Linked DNA regions of Homo sapiens: region 2 is linked to region 1. Evidence: fine-mapped expression QTL. Tissue or cell type: whole blood. Region 1 holds a variant in brackets; the other region holds the start of a gene. All regions are shown on one strand. Distances are between the middles of the regions.

The links. PIP is the estimated chance that this variant, and not a neighbour inherited with it, causes the effect.
Region 2: it holds the start of GMPR, and the variant in region 1 is fine-mapped to the expression of GMPR in whole blood (TOPMed, PIP above 0.99).

What each region holds. Positions count from the first base shown.
Region 1 is chr6:16,294,200-16,296,699 of GRCh38, forward strand. It overlaps GMPR (guanosine monophosphate reductase), which reads left to right. Exons shown (of 9, transcript NM_006877.4): 9 at 807-1,350. The coding sequence ends at 987. Among named protein-coding and RNA genes, the nearest start is that of GMPR, 57 kb to the left of the region's middle. The variant T/C (reference allele first, on the strand shown) is at 1,125.
Region 2 is chr6:16,236,969-16,239,636 of GRCh38, forward strand. It overlaps GMPR (guanosine monophosphate reductase), which reads left to right and starts at 1,619. Exons shown (of 9, transcript NM_006877.4): 1 at 1,619-1,812. The coding sequence starts at 1,726. RefSeq lists silencers at 1,402-1,501, 1,622-1,721.

The DNA of each region.
Region 1 (2,500 bases):
AAGCCTCTGGTGCTAAGACAGGTCTTGGTTCTCCTCTGATTCCACCTTGCTTGGACCCACACATGTGCAGGGTGATAGGTGTAGTGACCTGTAAGAGAACAGGGAGTCGAACTGGGGGTGGCCAGTGTACCCAGCAAAGCAGAAAGACAGGCAGGCTATCAAAACAGAGCCACTTCAATGAAATCACCTTGCTGGTGATTTCCACGTAAGCTGGTAGGACCTGCGCTATCCATTTTATGTCCTCCTCGTCCTGGTCGTCCCCCTTGAAGACACTTGATTTCTGATCTTAGACCAGACAGGCGGGAGGTGAAGCTCTGGACTTTTCCTGTTGTTGACGTAGGAGGACAGGAGGCTGTTTCCAGGGGGGAATCGGCCAGGGCCATTCTGGGGGCATTTTGGGCTCCTGGTTGTTGGGAAGTTGGTGTGCATGTTGAGGTAGAATAGAAAGGTAAAGGTGGTTTCTGTTAGCAGCAGAGGGGAGCACGTTGCTGGAGAGAATGGCACCAAGCAGGGTGTTATGGGTCCCTGACTCCTTCAAGCGCTGCTCACCAGGACTTTCCTCTCCGCAACATGCAGGGCAGCCAGCAATGAGCCCGTGCCCTTTGGGCGGGAGGAATGTGTTCATCTGAGATGCTGGTGATCATCTTGGCACTTGGTAGAAATGTGGGGATGGGGTCAGAGGGTGGGGTCTGGTTTTCTGAGTGCCTTGGGGGCTACAGAAAGTGCTGGAGCTGGGAGTAATTCTAATTGGGCTCTTAAGGTGGGGCGGGAAACTAGATAAAAAGAAAACTTCTATCGTCTTCCAGAGCCTCTGAGGGTAAGACTGTGGAAGTTCCTTACAAAGGAGATGTGGAAAACACTATCCTGGATATTCTCGGGGGACTGAGGTCCACGTGCACCTACGTGGGGGCCGCCAAACTCAAGGAGCTCAGCAGGAGGGCAACATTCATCCGGGTGACCCAGCAGCACAACACCGTGTTCAGCTAACCCTGGGGACAAAGCAGCGTCTGGCTCGAGTGGAAGCGTCCAAACCTGCTTTTCCCATCTCCCCCCAAGTCTGTTCCGTCAGAGCTTCTGGCTGCTCCTGAATGGTGGAATGCTGTGTCCTCTCTTCTGTCTCCTGC[T/C]GCCTGGAGGCTTCGGGGCTCTCCCGCCTGCCTTCTCGGGGCCCAGACGCAAGGCACCGATTGGGCCAACATCAGAGCCCTGCTGCCCAGAACTCATAACCTCATTGTTCAAACCAACACTTGCACCTTTCTCTTTTTCTCTTTCTCTCTCCCTTTCTTTGTTTTTCTTTCTTTTTTAAAAGAAGATGGTTTCACTTTAATATAATGCTATTATCTTAAGACTTAATGGAGTTGCTGGAGTTTGTATTTCCAGGAGTCAAGTTGAATGGTTTGGGATTTGTTTTGCTACCTTCCTAGACAGGCTGATGGCAAGCCTCTCCCGGCGATTAGCAGACAAGTCACCTTAGGAGGGGCAAGGAGAGGAGGACAGTGCGGGGGCCAAGGGTGGACAGGCCGGAGTCAAAGTAACTGGCATCCCTCACCTCTAGCTTTTGGTTGCTGCAAAAGAACAAAAGCAATTAACTGGACAGATGAACATGAATTGTTTTCCCAGCTGATACTCACAAAGTTGAGCCAATGTGTTTTCCCCGAGTTTCATTACATGTGCTTTTCAGGGACAAGTCATCTGTCGCTACCAGTTTGCTGTTGCCTCTAGGAAGCTGTCCCTGTCCTGGCTTCTCATTTCGTTTTGTTTTCCTCCATCTTTTTTTTCCCCCTTCTCAGTCCCAACTTGTCTTAATTTGAAATTCCACAGGATGTTTTATGGGAAGGTTGTCTCCCAAGAAATTAGCAGGTGGAGTCACACTGAAAAAGAGCCAAAGCTTTGATCAGTGGCATCCTAAAAGGCATTGGTTTGAGACATGAGTTAGAGCCATTCCCTCAGTGTGCCAGTGAATCCTTTCTCGGAAGGACCACATGGCACTACTGTATAAGGGTCAGTTAACGGGTTGGGAACAATGACATTGTCTTGGAGAATTGGCCTCTGCAGCTGACCTGCAGCAGTCCACCAGGATGCTTGTTTAAACAGTGAACGCAGAAGAAGTGATGACCGGCCGCTAAACTTTGAAGTATTGAGTTCCAGGCCTGGAAAGCGTATGCAGATCAGGTTGTTTTACTTTGCTTTTTAATAAGGCTGAAGAGCAGATACACAAGTCAGTTTTCTTTGGAAAGGCAAGCAATGACCCTGGAGTAGAGAAGATCCACAGGGTGCTGCTGTGCCAGGGTGAATGAATGGCCTGATTGTCCACAGTGACCGATGGCATGAGAAGGGTCCAACCAGAGCTGTCACACTCTGGGATAATACAGGCCCACTGTTGGTCCTTTAAGATTATGTTTAGAGATCCAGCCAGCAGCATTGTCTCCATTGTAATACTTTCCCCTACTAAATCCATTAAGAGTTTTTTTTTTTTTTTTTTTTTTTTTTTTTTAATTTGAGA
Region 2 (2,668 bases), 57 kb before region 1:
AGTTCGAGGCTGCAGAAAAATGGAAGAGAATGAAAGATGATTCTTGCCTTTGTGCAGTTAGCATTCTAGTTTGAAAATACAAACACAATGCACATAATGTAACATGTGACTACAAATCTGTAACTACCATGCATTGAGCAACTACTATGGGACAGACATTGTGCTTACATAAACACACACACTTTAATTCTCACAAAAACCAGGGAGGAGATAGGGTTAACCCCCCCTCCTGCCCCCACCCCTTTTATGAGAAAACTGAGACTTAGAGAAATTGACTCCCCTAAGGTCACCTAGCTAGACAGTGGTGGAACCAGGTTTCAAACTCAGGCAGAGATGTTCCAGGACAAAAGCAGCTTCAGTGAATAGTTGTAGCAAGTTTTAAGGACTGAGAAATTTATATTGAATTTTTCTGCGGCCTTAGGCAAGTTATTTCATTTATAGAAGCCTCGTTTTTCCTTATCTGTGAAATGGCTCTTTCTTCATTGGGTTGTTCTGAGAGTGAATGAGATGATGCATGAAGCCCGGCAGCACATTTCAAATGTATAATAAAAGGTCGGTAAGGTCAATAAGTGAATCAATGAACTCACATCACTGGTAACCCCTCGAACTCACATCACTGGTAACCCTCAGAGGGGACTCAGGCTCCTCAAATCTCAGGATCTGCGTCGACTACAGACCTCACTGTTTTTCTTAAACAAAAATCCTGAAATCCAGGCTGGGCGCAGTGGCTCACGCCAGTAGTCCCAACACTGGGAAGCTGAGGCGGGAGGATTGCTTGAACCCAGTAGTTCAAGACCAGCCTGGGCAACACAGTGAGACCTTGTCTCTTAACAACAAGTCCAAAGGGAATCATGGCCTCCACAATCCCAGTACAGCTAAACAGTTAACTGCCCACGTTCTTTTCCTTAATTCTATACAACCTCCCTGGGGTTTCTGGTTCTTTGGCAAGTGAGAGACGTGCTCCTCAACACTGGGTGAGCACACCGGGCTTGAATTTTAAAAAAGGAGAATCCGCCGGGCACGGTGGCTCACGCCTGTAATCCCAGCACTTTGGGAGGCCGAGGCAGGCGGATCACTTGAGGTCAGGGGCTCGAGACCAGCTTGGGCAATATGGTGAAACCCCGCCTCTAGGAAATAATTTTTAAAATAAGCTGGGTGTGGCGGCGTGCGCCTGTACTCGAGGAGGCTGAGGCATGAGAATCGTTTGAGCCCAGGAAGTCGAGGCTGCGATGAGCGGCGATAGCGCCACTCACTCCAGCCTGAGCGACAGTGAGACTGTCTCAAAAAAAAAAAAAAAAAAGTAAAAGCTCTCAGGGAGCGACTTTTCCCTTGGATAAGGCAGCCACACGCTAAGTCCCCTCTCCATCGGGGACCCTGGGGACAAACAGAACGGTGCGCATTTCCCTCCCCCGTCCCCATTCGGTCACTGCCACGGGCTGTACACCTGAGGGGGAAGGACGGGGGCGGCGGCGCGAGGAGGAAGGGCTTCGCCGCCAATCTGTCCCTAACCAGTCTGCCTCTCAACCCCTGCCTGAGGCGGAGGCGGTGCCCGGGGCGGGCCAAGCGTGACCGCGGGTCGGCGGGGCGTGTTTAAGACCGCGGCGTGCGCACCCGGCCCACGCCAGCTCCCGGCCGCGGCACAGCAGCCCCGGCGCTCCCCGCGCCGCCCCGCGCAGGCGCCCCCGCCCCGCCGTCGCCGCCGCCGCAGCCAGGAGCCGCTGCACCATGCCCCGCATAGATGCGGACCTCAAGCTCGACTTCAAGGATGTCCTGCTCCGACCTAAGCGGAGCAGCCTCAAGAGCCGAGCCGAGGTGGGGGACGTTCGGAAGTCGCAGTGGGGTGGGATTTTTTTTTCCGGGTGGCGCGGGGCAAGTGGGTGGAAGGGGGTGGCACCGGGTTACCCTGCCTGCTTTGGTGTTTGAGACTGGGGCGCTGCGCCCCCGTTCCCGCGCCCCAGCACCTGCCAGGACGTGAGGTGTCTTTAAGGGCGGTGATACGGGGGCCCATGAAATTCTCTACACGTCGGTCCCGTTGGGTGGCCTAGGGGAAGTTCACAGTGAAACTCGACCACAGATGAGCGAGATCCAGTGGCCAGTTGGTTTAGAAGGAATAGGGGTACGAGGGCGCTTATAGCAAGAAAAGGAAACTGGAGCTAGGGGAGAGAGGACGAGAAAAACAACTGCAGATCCCGGTGATTTTTGGCTGCGTCTCCTAGTGCTGATAATTGCTGCTGCTTTCGCTTCGGGTCCAGCGGTGGAACTTCGTGAACGCGTCTGAAAAACCAGAACCCAGGGCACAAGTTCAGGGTTTCCTTTCTGAGTTTGGCGGCCTTGCTGGCAGTGGGGCTTGGGGACTCAGCGGTACTGGACAGCCCGCGGTCCCAGCCTAGCCCTGGAGAAGAGTTTCGAAAGCTTTGGGGTGAGAGAGGTGGGGGCGAATTGGAAGCCTCGGGCATTTCCCTGGTTCTGCCTGGATGTCCTCAAATCCTAAGGAACAGGTGGAGACCGGACTGGAAATAGCCTGAGGCTGGGGGAAGGGAGGCCAGTCCCTGAAGGATAAACTAGTTGCCTGAAAGGCAGAGTGCCCCGGGGTGGTGTGCGCTGGTGACTGGCTTTGCTGAGAGCTGGAGAGGAAGGTGAGGAAACCGGACACGGTTGAAGGCTGGGG